Regions from separate parts of the Homo sapiens genome. Here region 2 is linked to region 1. Evidence: fine-mapped expression QTL. A gene starts in region 1. The other region holds a variant in brackets. All regions are shown on one strand. Distances are from middle to middle.

Region 1 (8,518 bases):
ACCAAAGCAGTGAAGGCAGCCACATCTCCTCCATATCACTCACCACAGCCGCGATGCCAAGCTGACCACTCCATCCCACGAAGCAGACTCACCCTGGCCCCTGGGATACAACTCTGTCCTGGCTTTCTGGGCCCCTCTCAGGTCGCTCTTTTTCTGGGTCCTTTATAGGCTCATCTTCCTTTACTCAGCTGTTCGAGGTGAGTTCTTCAATCTCGCTGTGCCCATGACTTCAAATACAAACACAACCTAGACAAATGTCTGTCTAGCCAAGACGCCTCCTGAGCCCCAGACCCACCAGCTTATTTGGTATCTCAAAGACACCTCAAACACAACATGTCCAAAACCAAATACATGATCTTCTTCATCCTCCAAACCTGGTCCTCATCCAGTGTCCCATGTCTCAGGGACACCAGGTGGATGACTCTAGGGTGAGTGGGGGCGGTCTCTCCTTTTAAGCACACCACGCAGGGCGAGGCCAACAGTGGGTTCTCAGTAATAAGCAGTTCTACAGGAACATGCCTTGTCACCTACTTCCTAAAAATAGCCGTGACCTTTTTAGTGGACACAGCAAGCTCACATCTGTTATCACCACTCCTTCCCCACTGTCACACGCACCCTTTCCCCCAGTGGTGCCACTCCCCAGGCTGGATATGCCATATGCTCCCTAGCCTCCCTGTGAGCAGCCTCCACATTTCTCTTCTCTGCCCTCACTCAGATTTCCCCCATCTCATGTCCTCCAAGTCAGCCATCCCCAAGTGTGAGGGGCAGGGGACACCTGACTTCCTTCTCAATTTCCTTTCCTTCTTTTCTGCTAAGGCGGAGCCTAAGCCCCTGGAAAGCTAGAGATCCCAGAACCAGGCTTTGACCACCGCACACTCCACCCTCTGCTTCACAGCTCCTGGCAGTCACACACCCACGGTATCAACATTGTCATCACCACCCGCTAACTGATCTCAAACCCCTTTGCAAACATCTTCTCATCTGATTCTCCATTCCAGGCAGGCATTTTATCATCCAGAACTGTTCTGTGGGGGGGAAGCGGGGGGTCTCTGTGTGGCTGGGTGGCTTGTCCTAGGATACCTAGCACAGAGAACTCTGTCCCCCAATTTCTTAGTTGCCCCCACCCATTCCTTCCTCACATCAGCATGGGCAAGGCCAGCTGTGGTTTGGGTCACTGTTCAGGCTGTACTTTTAGGATCCTCCCAAATAGCAAACAACTATGTGACTATCAGGTCTTTATTTCATGGGTTATAGGAGATAGGGTCAGTAAGCCTAATGTGTAACAGTTTCAGTGGTTATTACAGAGTTCCATTGAATTGCAACAACTCCCTTTAAAAGCACAAACTCCCACCAAGAAAATCTCAGTTTCTTCATTAATCCTAAGAGCTTTCCTATCTAGGTATCACTCAAAATTCCTACTATTCTGGGGGCAATGGGATCAGAGGGTGTTGCAGAGAAAAATCCAGAGAAAGTGAAAAGTCTACTTCCTTGGCAGTGCTGGTGAAGCATACCCTTACACAGACGCTTCCCCATGGGAACAAGTGCCAGGAACTGCTTCAGGCTTACGGGGGAAAACAGTGGCTAAGAAGAGAGAGGAGGCCGGGCACGGTGACTCATGCCTGTAATCCCAGCACTTTGGGAGACTGAGGCAGGCAGATCACCTGAGGTCAGGAGTTCAAGACCAGCCTGGCCAACATGGTGAAGCCCCGTCTCTACTAAAAATACAAAAATTAGCCGGGCATGGTGGTGCATGCCTGTAATCCCAGCTACTCGGGAGGCCAAGGGAGGAGAATCATTTAAACCCAGGGAGCGGAGGTTGCAGTGAGCCAAGATTGCATCACTGCACTCCAGCCTGGGTGACAGGGCGAAATCTGTCTCAAAAAAAAAAAAAAAAAAAAAGACAGCAGAAGAAGAGGGGTGAATCCAGGAGGAAGGAGGGGGTGCACCAGAAAGGTCCCAGGACCTCTGATGTTCCAGCATTCAGCATGCATTTTGGTTCCACATTCAGCTCCTGCCCACACCAGTTTCTTTTCTCTATTCTACAATTTCCAAGAAGAACCCACACTAACCTATTCTGTCTCAACTCCCACTCCTGTCATCCCAAGCCACACATCACCTCCCCAATCACGTGAACTAGGCATCACTAATCGATCCTGGCCTTCTAGACACATCCACCCAGGGTGGGCCCTTTCTATAGTATCATGCATAAAGGCGTCAGGTGAGGCTTCCACTCCCACCTCTTAGTCCCAATTCATCTCCATCTCACCCTCCCCACGTTTCTCTATCCAAACCCAGCCTTCAAGGTCCTATATTTTAACCACAGGGAAACCACTTCCCTGTGCTGTCTCTGTTGTTCAACTAACGACAACTAATTTTCTGAGCACCTACATTAGGCAAGGCCCATCCTGAGTGCTGCCACCAAGAGGTAAGTCAGAAACAGCCCCCACCCTCCAGAGTCAGAGGACAGGGCAGCGATAAGCCACACCGCCACACAAATACTATGCAAGGCGAGAGATGAGAACCGAGTCAGTGCCAGAAGGGCTGAGTGAGCTCAGAGCATATCCCGTCCCTCCTGCTGGGAGCAGGCACCCGGATGGCTCCCAGGAGGGTGGAGAATGCTAGGCCAGACAGGGGAGGGAGGGCATTCCAGTAAGACAGAGAGCATGAGCTTAGCATGAGCTAAGCCAGAAAGACGGTTCAGGAGAAGTGCATTTCAACTTTAGCTGAACCTTCCACTGCTACTATTTATTGACCCTTACACCTGATTATTTATGACCCAGGCCTGCCTCACACACTTTATGGCTAATGTGGGTGACACCCATCTGGGATACACAAGTGTGGTGCAGCAGTCACCACCTGTTCTGACTGGTCCGTACCTGAGCTCTGTATTGTTATTAAATAAATGAATGCACTGAATCTCACAAGCCTGTGAGGCAGGGATTACTATTACCCCCATTTTACAGATGAAAAACCAAAGCACAGACAATAGTCAAAGAAAAGATAGCAAGGTATGCAGGAGCCTGAAGTAGTGGGCACCCAATGCCAGGGCAACAAACTGCCCTGGCACCTCACCTGGCCTCTCTTATCAGGGAACACCTTGCAGCACAAAGAATGCCTTGAGGAAAGGGGCCCTGTTAATCCCCTGGAATCCCCAACAATTGACTGCCGCATAAAAGGAATGAGGAAAGCAATGAGAGCCAGTGAAGGGTGAGCATACCAGGCCCTGCCCTGCAAACCTAGTCCCTGTTGCGTGGGCAGGGCAGGGCAGGGCAGGGCAGGGGCTCGGCCTCACAGCTCCACTCCATGCCCAGCGCAGAGAACAGAGGGGAGAGCTACCACAAACGCCGAATCTCTACAGAGAGGTCAAGGATTGGAGGGCAGAGACAGAAATGCCCCGGGCTGACTGTTTCCAGCTTGGGCTAGCACTGGCTGGCTTAACTTTTCCCCTCCAAAGTCTCTAGGTAACAAACTTCGCGTGTCTCCTTTAAACCAACAGACCATTTTACCTAAGTCTTAAGGGCCTGGCCTGCACCCATGGGAGATACAAGTCCAGGAATCCCTTCCTGAAACTGGGGATCAAGGTTGGGGAAGGGGCGAAGGCACGCACAGCACCTGGGATGGCTCCCGCATTCCCTCAAACACTGGGGAGAGTTCCTTACAAATAAACTGCAATGGTAGCAGCTCCCAGGAATGTGCGTGCTCCCAGTTTCGGAGGAAAGTTCCTGAAGATAGCCTTCTCTGCTTAATCTCCCCAAGCCTCGCCTAGAAGGGCGCGCGCACCCTGGAGGGCTCCGCAGGGCTGCGGGGCCGGGCCTCCGGCACCCCTCCCGCCACCCGTTGCCTCCTGCGCCCAGGGTCACGGCCCCTGGCCCTACCCAGGCCCAGACTGAGACCCCGACCCCTGAGCCCGGGGGGACGGCGAGTGCACCCCGACCACACATGAGGGAGCAGCCCCAGACGCCGAGGCTGATCTAGGGGGCTGCCAGGCCGACACGGCCCGCCCGCGACCCGCCGACGCCCTCCCCTGCCCCCCACCCCCACGCCTGTAGTGCAACCAGGAAGCCGCAGGGCCGCGCTGGGCTGGGCGCCAGGCAGCCCCGGGCCTCACCCGCGGCGCCGCGGTGCACTGCCGCCGCCTGGTCCCAGGCCCCCAGCCGGCTCGGGACCCTCACTCACCTGGCCACGGGGACTCCGGACGCGAGGGGCGAAATGGGACGTGGGCGGGAGTGGCTCTCTCCGCGGGCGTCCCGGGCGCGGCGCCTGGGTTCTGCCTAGGGGCTGGGTCCCACTCCCGCTCGCGGGGCCCGCGGGGCACTCGGGGCACTGGGGAGCCGCGGGCGCAGCAGCCGTCAGCGCCGGGCGGAAAACTCCGCGGGCGCGGCTGCCCCAGGTGCCAGAGGCAGTGCAAGGGAGGGGCGGGGCCTGAGCGCGGCCCCGCCCCCAAGATGAGGACTGGGCACGGCGGGCCCGCGAGGAGCAGCAGCCTTCCGGCTGCGGAGCTGCTCCAGGAAGTCTCGGGCTCCGGAGGTCCCTCTGCCGCCCCTAACCCCTGCGGCGCCCAGTGCCGCGCAGAGCCGCATTCGCCCTCCTGCAGGGGTGGGCATTTCCTAAGTCCTCTCCAGCCCCGTGTGCGTCGGTTAGTGACTCTCTTTAAGGTCGAGAAAACTTTTTACACTGAAAAGGTCAAACGCATTTCCTTTATAGCAACACTCGGTGGTGGTGGAGGGGGGAAGGTCACGCACAGTATGTGAGGAAGGGAGCGGTCAGTGACTATCGTGGAGAAACCTGACAAACCACCCAGCCGTCAAGGTGACCTCGACAGGGGTAAATCATACTGATTGCATGCACCGCTTGTGGTCTTCCTCCCAAGAACACCTAACCCCACTGTAATCATGAGGAAAACATCACAAATCAATTGAGGCCCTTGCCATATACATGACCAGTACTCCTGAAAACTAGCAAGGTCATCAAAAACAAGGAAAGTCTAGGACACTGTCACAGCCAAGAGGAACCCACGGAGATATAAAAATGACTTAAGATGTTAATAATAGGAAAAGCCCGGGTTTATGAGAATTCCCTGTATTCACACTTTTTCTGTAAATCTAAAGATGTTCTAAAAATAAAGCATATTTTTAAAAGGTCACCCAGGTAATATATGCATATATGGTAGGTATACAATTTTTTTTTTTAATGAGTGGTGGCTGACGCCTGTAATCTCAGCACTTTGGAAGGCCAAGACAGGAGGATGGCTTGAAGACAGGGCTTCCAGACTAGCCTGGGCAACATAGTGAGACCCAGTCTCTAAAAAACTAAAAATAAAAAATTCAAAAAATGAGTAAAAATTGAGATTCACTCTTCCCTCCACTCCCCCAGCCCACTCTTAGGTGTGTCCTTCCAAATATCTCTCTTTAACACTGTGTGTGTGTGTTTACATAAACGTATTGTTTACAAAACGATATTGCAGTACTTTTCTGCAACATGTTTTTTTACTCACTATATCTTGGAGGGTCTTTCCATACAAGTGCTCCTGAACAGACCTGGTTCTTCCCATCCACTGCACACTGCGCGCCATCGTGCGCTTCACCATTCTTCATTACCTAGCTCCTTACTGAAGGACATTTAGGTTGTTGCCTATGTTTGGCTGTTACAAACAAGCTGCTGGTTCGATTTTCCTTTTTTTTTTTTTTTTTCTGAGACGGAGTCTCGATCTGTCGCCCAGGCTGGAGTGCAGTGGCGCGATCTCGGCTCACTGCAACTTCCGCCTCCCGGGTTCAAGCGATTCTCCTGCCTCGGCCTCCTGAGTTGCTGGATCTACAGATGCCCACCACCACGCCCGGCTAATTTTCATTTTTAGTAGAGACGGGGTTTCACTATGTTGGCCAAGCTGTTCTCGAACTCCTAGGCTCAAATGATCCGCCCGCCTCGGCCTCCCAAAGTGCTGGGATTACAGGCGTGAGCCACCGCGCCCGGCCCGATTTGCGTTTTAAAGTCGCTCTGAACAATAAAATCCGGAAGGACTGGAGGGGAGGCTCCGACCTTCTCCCTGTCTGGGCAGGTGTGCTGGTGCCGGGCAGGAACGGTGCCTTGGGACAGCCTGGCCCCGGCCTCACAACGGGCCCCGGGCGCTCAGTCATATTCCGTGGCCGCTCCAACACCCCCTACCCCCACCAGCAGGCGCGGCTCTCTTTCGGGGCTGGACTGCATTTTTTGGACATGAGTCGGCGAGTGAGGGTGAAACTCAGGCCAAAGTCTCCAGAGCCGCTCGGAGAAAACGCTGCCTGGAACAGAAGAGCAGAGGATCAGAGGCACCACCAGAGACTCTCAGAGTGGGTTATTACCCTGGTGGGGGCGCCTGCTGCGGCGTAGGAGATGGCGGGACTGGGGGCGCGGGTGTGAAGCCCCCAAGAAATCTGTGTGAATTTCCTGGGGAGGTAAGGTCTCCAGGCGCTCTCTCTGGGCCCGGGGATTGGTCCGGGAAGGTCTCCTGGCGCCTACCCAGCCCCCACTGCCTGGACGCCTGCGCCTGCTCTGCCGCCCCACAGCGACCGCGAAGGCCAGCTTCTTCGAAAGGCCCATTTTTCTCCGTGGCTGAGCGAATGCTCCTAGAATACCACGTTTATAATAAATCATGTAGGGTGGAATTCCTGCTGGATGTATACACCTTTCTGCATCAGAGCTCTTCAAACCCAGAATGGTGAATAGCTACCCCTGGGCTTACCCTTTTATAATTTTCAACAAACCTGCGTTTAGCCCCGGCTAGGTGCCAGCAAGTTGCTAGGGACTGAGGAGGCTCTGCAGAGGACCCGAGCTGAGGCCCTAATCCTCAAGGCCAATGGCAGGGGTCACCGCCCAGGCACCCCCAGAGAACGCGGTGTGAAGGAAAAGACACCAAACTCGGTGTTCAAATGTGTGGGATCTATTCTAGTTCTGATTCTGACACTTGCAAGTCATGCATCCTCCGAGCCTCGGCTTTCTCACCTATAAAATCTTCAACGTGACCTATAAAAATCCATAAAATCACCCCTGCTTCATTGTTTCCCAGGGCTCATAGAAACATCATACAAGGTAAGGGAAGGTGAGTGCACTGTAAAAAATGGTGACGTGCTATATAGCTCTGAGTAGTATGGTATATAAGCTTCCTTTTTAAAAATTTTAATTTTAGGGCCAGTGTTGGGATTACGGGTGTGAGTTACCGCACCCGGCCTCTTTTGTTGTTTTCTAATAAGTATATATGACTATCATTTCCCTCAAAAGTCTGCTTTAGCTGAATATCACAAGTTTTAATATGCTATGCTTTTGTTATCACTTAGTTATACATATTTGGATTTTGTTGTTGTTGTTGTTACAGAGTCTCGCTCTGTCGTCCAGGCTGGACTGCAGTGGCAAGATCTCAGCTCACTGCAACCTCCACTTCCCGGGTTCAAGAGATTTTCCTGCCTCAACCTCCTGAGTAGCTGGGATTACAGGTGCACGCCACCACACCCGGCTAATTTTTTAATTTTTAGTAGAGATGGGGTTTTACCATTTTGGCCAGGCTGGTCTCCAACTCCTGACCTCAAGTGATCCACCGGCCTCAGCCTCCCAAAGTGTCGGGATTACAGGCGTCAGCCACTGTGCCTGGCCAATATTTTGTTTTTTATGTTAGGATTGTATGCTTAATTCATGGATTATTTAGACGTATATTTTCCATTCTTTTTTTGTTTTCAAACTTCAGTTTTTTAAAAAATAATAATAATCATTTGGGGAGGGGCCCAGTGGCTCAGGCATGTAATCCCAGCACTCTGGGAGGCCAAGGTGGGAAGATCGCTTGAGATCAGGAGTTTAAGACCAGCCTGGGCAACACAGTGAGAGCCCCTCTACAAAAAAAAATTTAAATAAAAATAAATCAATCATTTTGTCATTGATCTCTAACTTTAATGCTTGGAGATGAGGAAATGTGTTCTTTTAGAATTTGTTAATGCCTCCTTTGTGGCCTCATATACAGACTTTTTTTGGCTGTCCCAATTTTTGTGAACGTCTCTTCACTTTTTATGTGGTTTTTTTTTCTCTATATCTCTCCATCTAGCTTGCTAATCAGGTTATTTAGATCTTTTATCTCCTGGGTTTTTTTTTTTTTTCTCTCCTGTTCAATCCATTGATTTCTGAAAGAGTAGGTTTAACATTTCCCACTTTTATTGTAGTTTGTCAATTTCTCCCTCTAATTTAGTCTGATTTTGCTTTATACTATTTTTTTTGGTTTTTTGATTTTTGTTTAAGAGGCAGTGTCTCACCATGTTTCCCAGGCTGGAGTACAGTAGCTATTCACAGGTGTGATTATAACTGCAGCCTCAAACTCCTGACCTCAAGCCATCCTCCTGCCTCAGCCTCCTAGGTGGCTGGCATTACAGCCATGTACCACCTCACCCGGCCAGCCTTATAATTTTGAGAGCAAATTATTAGGCTTATACAAATTAATATTGTTTTATCCTTTTATGACTTATTCAGTTTTATTACTTTTTGTATAAATATTGTTATCCTG
Region 2 (8,518 bases), 47 kb before region 1:
TTGTATTTTTAGTAGAGATGGGGTTTCACCATGTTGGCCAGGCTGGGTCTCGAACTCCTGACCTCAGGTGATCTGCCCGCCTCACCTCCCAAAGTGCTGGGATTACAGCCGTGAGCCACCACGCCTGGCCAAATTTTTTAGTAGAGACAGGGGTCTCGCTGTTGGCTAGGCTAGTCTTGAACTCCTGAGCTCAAGTGATCCTCTCACCTCAGCTTCCCAAAGTCCTTGGATTACAGGCGTGAGCCATAGTGCCTAGTCGATTCTCTCTTTTCTAAACCTCAACGCAGGAGGTTGGAAAAGGAGTGGGTGGAGACCCCTGATGCAAGGTAAGCTCTAGCTTCTGGACATGACACCATAATTCTCAGAAACTCTCTTATGGATTCTCTTCCCTCACACCACCAACCAACGGGCACAGGGTCCCCAGAGACCAGAGCCAGGAGCCCCTTTCAGCCTGGAGGCACCCTGAGGGGAGGCACTGGTCTTGTGACTCTCTGGGTTGTCCCCATCCTTCTCTCTGGCCCCCGCCGAGGGGCACCAGGAATTAGCACACACCCTTCTTCCCTCCTGGGACCTGGGTGAAGGACTGCATTCTTCGCACCACACCTTCAGTGGACTTCACTGCACCTGCAACCAACCAAGATCCCTTTGCCTTTCAGGTGTCTGGGCCTCCTGCCTGGATTTCGGGAACCTCCCTTCCCATGTCCTTACGAGTCCCTGCAAACTAGTGTATGCTCAGGGTTTCCTGCACACAAATCTCTACGTAAGGTTACATGAACTTTCACTGGCTGATAAGGCCAGACCTCTGAGCCACAGGGCAGAATCAAGCAGAAGAAAACAAGTTGGTACCAGGAAGACATTTCCAGACCATTCCAGAGCTGGCTGACTCTTAATGTGGAAACAAGTTTTGGCTACAGACATTCAGGTTTAAGGCACATACCACAAATTACAAGAAGCCCTGTCACTGACAGGGAACTGGCTTTGTTCTCGTGGTTTCTGCAAGGAAGATGGAAGGAATGACTTTCTGGCCCTTTTTTTTTGTTTTTTCTAAAAAGGAGTGAGTTTGGCAGTAACAAAGCTCGTGACACACTCACCAGATGCACAGGCTACCTTCTCAGGCACGCCTCCCTTTCTCTCCTCAGCGAGGACACGGTGCTTCACCCACCCAGTCGCCCTCACCAGAAATGTGTATGCAGCAAACAGACTTGTATGCCTCTGTCTGGCAATGACTGTAAGAAAAGAAAATATGCCTCCAAATAAAAATATACAATTACATGACGAAATGAAGCCAAGTCTTAGCCACAGGCAAAGGGGAATGATTGCATGAGTCAGAAAAATGAAACATCTATTTTAGCAGCAAGAGGCTGTGAGGGATGGGGTAGAAAAGGCATCCTGAGAGAGTTCTAGACCGACCCAGGTCCTGTGGCACACTATACGGGTCAGGAGGGGTGGAAGACAGGCCTAAGCTCTAGGACGGTGAATCTCGGGGCTATTTGTGGATTTGTTAGAAACAGACATTCTTTTGGCCTTTTCCTGGCACTGGTGTTGCCGGCAGGTGGGCAGAAGTGAGCCACCAGTCACTGTTCAGTCATTGCCACCACAGATCTTCAGCAGAATCTTCCGGTAATCCCCTGAAGTATCTCCCTGGCCACAGAAACAAGGAAGACATCCGTTAAGGGAGGGACAGTCACTTTCAGCCTTCTGGGTCCTGATATTCAGCCCTGAGCACCCTTATAGGGAGAAAGCCCCACCCTGGGGAATTTTCTCCCACTGCAGGTCCTGCAGCAGGCGTCACAGACCTTAAAAAATGCAGTTCAGCCTTCTCCAGGCCCCCATCAGAAGACGGAAAGCAGCACTCACCCCAGCTATCCACATCAAATGAATACCCACAAAAAAAAATTATAATCATCCTAAAAACCACTTCCCAGGGCTAACCAATATTGCTGTTTTCCCAGTGCATTTATGCTGCCTTAAATTGGGGTTACCAATGTAACGCAACACAGTGTCCTGCTCAGGAAATGCAATCTCCTCACACATGACTGTCCAGTGGAAGGCTCAGACTGCCCAGGTCCCAGGGATCTCTCCTCTGTCTGAGGCCACTACACTTACTCTAAGAGTGCAGGCTCGGCTTGGCTCATTTCTAATCATTTCCTTCCACCCTAAGCAACTTGAGGGCAAGGCATGTGGCTTCTTCCAGATGTCCATAGCTTGCTGGCATGCAGGAGATACTCTGTAATGAATTATTAACTCTCTTTTTTTTTTTGAGACGAAGTCTCACTCTGTCACCAAGACTGAAGTGGAATGGCGTGATCCCAGCTCACTGCAACCTCTGTCTCCCGGGTTCAAGCAATTCTCCTGCCGCAGCCTACCTAATTAGCTGGGATTACAGGCAAGCCCAGCTAATTTTGTATTTTTAGTAGAGACAGGGTTTTACCTTGTTGGCCAGGCTGGTCTCGAACTCCTGACCTCAAATGATCCACCTGCCTCAGCCTCCCAAAGTGCTGGGATTACAGGCGTGAGCCACTGTGCCCAGCCTAGAATCACTAATTCTCTAACAACAGCTTCATTCATACAGCCAAGGAAACACAGTGAGTTTCCTGTGATGACATGCCCACCATCATCAAATGCTACTGAGTCTAAGGTGGGAGGACGTGGTCCCCATGGTGCAATTGCAAGGCTCATGTGAGTTCAGAATTTGAGCGTTAGACCACACAGCTGAGAATGTATTTTGTCAGACTGGCTCTGCCACACAGCGATACAACTGTGGCTAGTGTTTAATAGACACTTGACCTGCACTGCCTCACTCAATACTCACAACATTCCCAGGAAGGAACGATTATTTTCTCATCTTAAAGACAATGGAGCTGGGGTTCAGGGAGATTTAAGGGAGCCATTCAAGGTCACACAGTTAGCAAGTAGAAAAGCTGGACTCCAAGTGGCGTGACCCCCAGGGCCCTCGCTCTGAACGGCCTTACTATGTGGCCTACGCCATAAAGCTGAGTGCAGGAAGTGCTTTGTCAGGGAGTGACAGCAGAGCTCCACAGAGCCTTTGGGACATGAGTTCTCACTGACAGATCAAGGAATCACACGGTGATCGGAACGCTGAAGGTCACGGTCAAGGTTGGGGAGGTCCCGAGTGTTCTCTGATGCTGCTGGGGGATGCAAGGTGGGGGCGACAGCAAGGTCATGATCCACCTGCCCTCAGAAATTTATAATCTGTTTAAGGGCAAGGGGATGAACAAGTCCGAGGTCCATAATCAAGATGCCCACACACAGCACAGAGGCCAAGCATATGGCCACTCCAAGGAGGGAGGTTCCACAGGTGACTGAGATGCCAAAAGGGAGCCCAGTTGGCCTGCAGCAGGCCCGTACCGAGATGTCGTGGTACAGCGACTTGCCGTACATCCGCTTATACTCTGATCTGATGTCCAGGAGGTCGGTCTCGCTGCGAGACACCATGATGCGAATCAGGGTCCGGTCCTTTGTTCCTGCCCCCTAAAGAGAGTCCACCCAAGAGCATGAGCACCAGGCCTCCTCACCTTCCCACCTGCCCTGGGCCCTCCAGTCCCCTCCCTACCCAGGTCCTCGGAACTCTCAGCTGAGATTTAGCTCTCCCCAGGCCTTCTGCCCTCAGCCCTTGGTCCCAGGCACAGGCGAGGCTAAGGTTCCATCGCAACCTGCACATGGAAGTTACATACCCTCATGGCCTTGTTGAGCCTCTCCGCAAAGAAGGCTGGGGTATTCTTGAGACATTTCACTAGAAGAGAGAAACTCGGCATAACCAGATCTGCAGAAAATTCTCAGCCCAAGCAGGGCATGGAGTCTACAAGTGTCCTCTTAGAGGCCCAGATGTCAAACCCATCACTGCATCCATCTTTTCTCCTCCTCCTTCTGTTCCAGGCTCAACTATCCCATGATCTTGGCTCCAGCTATTTGGAACAGAAACACGCAAAGCCTGGAAACCAACCCACCCTCTTTCCTGGCAACCACTGCGGTGAAAGGACCAAGAGTCAGAGGGGCGGGGGTCTTAGTGGGGCTAGGAGCTACACAGGGAAGCAATGTGGATGGTGATGAGGAACTGTGCTGCTGCTCAGGCAGGAGGGGCAGACTGGAGAGGCCATGACCGTCATGGAGAAACC[G/A]TGGCTGAGTGGAATGTGCATCTCCCTAGGCTTCCCAGGCCATGAGACCTACTATGGGGGACAGGCAGGGAAATGAGGATTTTCCATCTCTCCCATCCAGAAAGCTCCAAAAAAAGCATAATGAAAAAAGGGGCAGACTGATTTTCCCAAGTGAGTAGAAAGAGGGGTTGTGAGGGCCTCAGGGCAGGGACCCAACTCTGCACAGTGGGAGGGCCCTGCTAGAGGACATGGGCAATGTAAGAGGCACACCACCATCCTGGAGCCAAGCCAGCTTTCCTCAGCATGGGCCTGTTTCGCTGCTGCAAGTAAAAATCTTTCCACGTGTTTCCATCACAAACATCTGACAACTGCCTGCAGGGATGTATTTTTAGAGGAAACGTGGCAGGATATGAGTCATACTCCTCCGGGAGCGCAGTTGGATGCCCTCCCACTAATACCCACACTGCAGTTCCCTACTCCAGAGCTGCACCGCAAACACACACAAGACACCTCCAGGACAGCTAGGGGTTCAACTGCACAGGGAACCGGGAAGCAGCATGACTTCCCAGCATCTGGACACTCTGGGCTGAGCGATCTTGGATCCTGTGGTCCCTTCACGGTGTCACCCATCAGCTGGAGGACAGGCGAGCAGCCTGAACACTCACGATACACGTTAGCCCCTGGCAGGTGGGCGGCAAACCTGAGACACTTACCCACGGCCAGCATGCCCTCCTCCAGGTCCCCGGACATCTCCCGGCAGATGCTCTTCTCAATGTCCCGGCCTGTCATTCTCTGGTACTCATTGAAAACTATGGGGATGACAGAGGCTTATATTATGAACTGAAATGTGTCTCCCCAAAGTTCATATGTGGAAGTCCCAACTCCCAGGACTTCAGAATATAACCGTGTTTGGAGATAAGATCTTTAAAGAGGTAATTAAGTTAAAACATGCTGCTAGGGTGTACCCTAATCCAATTCGCCTGGTCTCCTTAGAAGAAGAGAAGATTAGGACACACACAGAGATCCCAGGGATGTGCACATGCAGAGGAAAGACCATGTGAGCACAGTGATTGTCACGAAGAGGCCACGGGAGAAACCGGCACCCCACTCTTGGATATCTGGCCTTCAAAACTGTAACAAAATGAGTATCTGCTGCTTAAGCCACCCAGTCTGTGGTATTTTGTCATGGCAGCATGAGCAGACTAACAGAGGACTCACATGAGGTGGCCTCTGCCCCAAAATCTCCCACCTGCCACTCTGCTCCCACACCCTGCACGTCCCCAGGCCTGCTAGCGCTCAAGGAAGTCAGAGTCTTCGTCACAAGTTACATGCACCACCTGATGTCCCTCCCTGTGTGGTCCCTTTCTCAGGACTGCCAATCTGCTTAACCAAATCGCACCTTAATACCCCTCCAGGGCCCACTCCCATGTACTCCAAGACAGTGTCCCCTCTTCTCAAATCCTCCACACCTCCAGTCTCTGCCATTCCTTGGCTTTATTCATGCATCCATCTGTCTTCCTCAGCCTGCCTGTGAGCTGAGGCCCAGCCTGCCCCAGCCAGCCTGGCTTCTTGCTGCTCACCTCGACCTAGGACACGCTAAGCACCCACAGGAGTGGATGGCTGGCTCCTAGAGAGACAGGTGGCATGATGGAGACCTTGGTCCTGACTCCAGTTCTGACCCAGGACATAAAACTCTCCTTCCCCAGCCTGAGTCTCAGCTACCATTTGCATTTTAAAGTTGTGATTTCTGCTCTGTGTGTATCTGTCTCAATTAATATCTTCTTCCAATCAGCTACTCTTTTCTCCTAAGTAATAATGTTTGTGAAGCCATGGGCTTGATGCACTACTTACATGTTCTGTACTCATTAAAAGAAATAATGATTAAGATGAAAATGCTTTCACTCAGGCTCCATTACAGGATAGTGCAGAGGTTAAAAAGTGTGCTCTGGGGTCGGGTGGTCTGGGTTCAAATCCCAGCTCAGCTGTTACTAGCTGTGCACCCCTACTTCCTCTACCACCCTGTGCCTGCTTTCACAGCTGCGAATGGGGAGAGCCACAGCGCCTGTCTCTGTGTGCAGCACAGAGCGGTCGCTGGGTTTTCACCCTCACTGCCCACTGGAGCAGCCCTGGCCACAGCCCACCAGTTGCTCCGTGTGGTCACCATCCTCAGTCCTTGCCTGCCACCTCACACTGGCCTCCAGGACCCCCTTCCTCTGCGTCCTCCTCCCTCCCTAGCTGCTCCTTCTTAGTCTCCTCACACCGGTGGGCTCCCCACAGTCTCCCTCCTGAGGGGACCTCCTGCAGTCCCAGAGCCTCAGATAACTTCAACTACCCATAGCTCCCTTACCTTCCACAACCAGGCCAGACCTCTCCTGACCTCCACACTCAGCAACCCAGCAGCCTCCCTGCAGCTCCACCCTACAGGCACCTAAAGCCAGCTCCACCTACAGTCCCCCTGTCTCAGTTGAGGGCCATTCTCCCACTGCTTGGCCTAAAGAAACCCTGTATAATCCTCGAACCCTCTCTCTCCCACACGTCACGTGTCCAATTCATCAGCAAACATGGCCGGAACCTGACACCTCCTCACCACAAGCCCCTATTACCACCATTCCTCCCCGGGTCCCTGCAGCAGCCTCCCGACAGGCTTCGCTGCTTGGCCTTGCACCCTTCACTCCATTCTCGGCACCACAGCCAGGGATTCTGCACAGCCTCCTCTGCTCAGGGCCCTCCACTGGCTTCCTCTTTTGCTCAGGATAAATACCCAGCTCCGGGAAGTCATCAGCAGGGCCCTCTCCCCTCTCTGCCCTCACCTCCCACTCCTCTTGCTCACTCCACCTGCTCCACATGGTCCCCCTTCACTGTTCTCAGTCGTGCTGGGAGCCCCAGGCAGGCCTCTGCCCCTGCATCTCCCTTTAGGTTTTTAAATCAAATGTCACGACCTCAGTGGGGACTGGCCCAAGCACCTCCCGGTGGACCCTACCATCACTCCCTACCTGTTTCCAGCTTGATTTTCCTCTACAGGATTTCCCATCTGATACAGATTTTATTTCATTGTTGTTTACTGTCTGTCTCCCCAAATGAGAAAGTGCAGCCCATGGAACACACTCTGCAGTGCCCTGCCCCCCACCGTGGCCCCACACCTGCTCCACCACCTGACAGACTGACCCATGCGGGAGCGCGATTTACATCTGTTGAATGAATGAGTAAATGAATGGCACCCAGTTTTATTGTTATGACTGTTTCTTATGCCAGGCTTTGGAAAACACTGGATTGGGTGCTCCCGAAGGACCCTCCCAACTCTGACGTTCCACATTCCCACGTACAAAGACACCAGGTTTCTACACCGGTAGAACCTCCAGAACTGGATGTTTGCCAGAACTCAGGAAACCCTCTGACAGTGTCTTTTAAATTCCCACCAGGGGGCTCTTTTGAGGAGGCGAAAGCCCCACGCAGGGAGGAACGACCAAGTGTTCCCATAGCTTTGTTTCCCCACAATCCCCTGACTGCCCTCATCTAACTGGCCTCTGAGGGACCCCAGCCTGCCTTACCTGCTACCAGGTGGGCCCGGCTCCGGGAGCACAGAACCGCATTGAACTTGGACTCGTCTGTTCCCAGGCGGTTCTCCCCGGCCGCATACAGCTCCTGGAGAGAGAGGAAGACGCACATGTGGCACAGGCCACACCCAGACCCCAGGCCCAGGTCACCCAGGAGAGCCTGGTAAACTTCTGAAGGTTTGAGCCTAAAGTATTTGCCAATTTGCAACCTCTGAACTAGATGGCCTCTAAAGTGCCTGCTAGGCCTCAGGTAGCAGCCCTGAAAAAGAGCAGAAAGCAGCAATCAGGGGCTGAGATCCCACAGGTCAAGATGAGGCCAAAGCAGCTCTGGACTGAGAAGGCAGAGCATGAGACAATTTTTGCCCCGCTAAAAGTGGCATGCAAAACTCTCGCTGGAGCAAAAGCCAGAGCCCTGAGCCCCAGGCGTGTCCAGCCCTGACTCCCAGAATGGGAATGGATGTTACCAGCCAGAGAGACACTGAATAAGGCAGACCCTGCAGGAGCAGCAGGTCTGAGACCAGGGCAGAGGCAAGTGCTGACTGGGCACAGAAGACCGAGCCAGGAGTATAGGCCCTTGTCCGGGCTCTGCTTCTAGCTTTCAGTTGGGAACAGTGCTCAACCTTTTTGAGCCTCAGTTTCCTCCTCCGGAAAAGGAGGACCAGCAAAAGGACCAGACCAGAGGAGTAGCTCTCCTCCAGCCCTAACAAGGGGGCATTCCTTGAGGTCTCATTCCAATCCCGCAGATGGTAGAGATAATTTAGACCACTGGCAGCTCCTGGTGAATGCCCTGCCGTGGATGACAAGAGCAGTGAAGGGAGACAGAGAGGTATGGCCAACTCCACCCCACCA

Evidence for each region.
Region 2: its variant is fine-mapped to the expression of ANXA11 in whole blood (INTERVAL, PIP 0.99).

Annotation. Positions count from the first base shown.
Region 1 is chr10:80,201,167-80,209,684 of GRCh38, forward strand. ANXA11 (annexin A11) reads right to left here and starts at 4,371. Exons shown (of 16, transcript NM_145868.2): 1 at 4,177-4,371. It overlaps LINC00857 (long intergenic non-protein coding RNA 857), which reads left to right and starts at 6,544. Exons shown (of 2, transcript NR_038464.1): 1 at 6,544-7,065. RefSeq lists enhancers at 2,060-2,149, 2,650-2,729, 5,369-6,010, 5,781-6,980, 6,011-6,652 and a silencer at 3,715-4,594.
Region 2 is chr10:80,154,272-80,162,789 of GRCh38, forward strand. ANXA11 (annexin A11) reads right to left here. Exons shown (of 16, transcript NM_145868.2): 12 at 7,664-7,757; 13 at 4,829-4,924; 14 at 3,696-3,754; 15 at 3,370-3,492; 16 at 1-1,641. The coding sequence ends at 1,582. Among named protein-coding and RNA genes, the nearest start is that of PLAC9, 26 kb to the left of the region's middle. RefSeq lists enhancers at 3,911-5,110, 4,208-4,749. The variant G/A (reference allele first, on the strand shown) is at 4,137.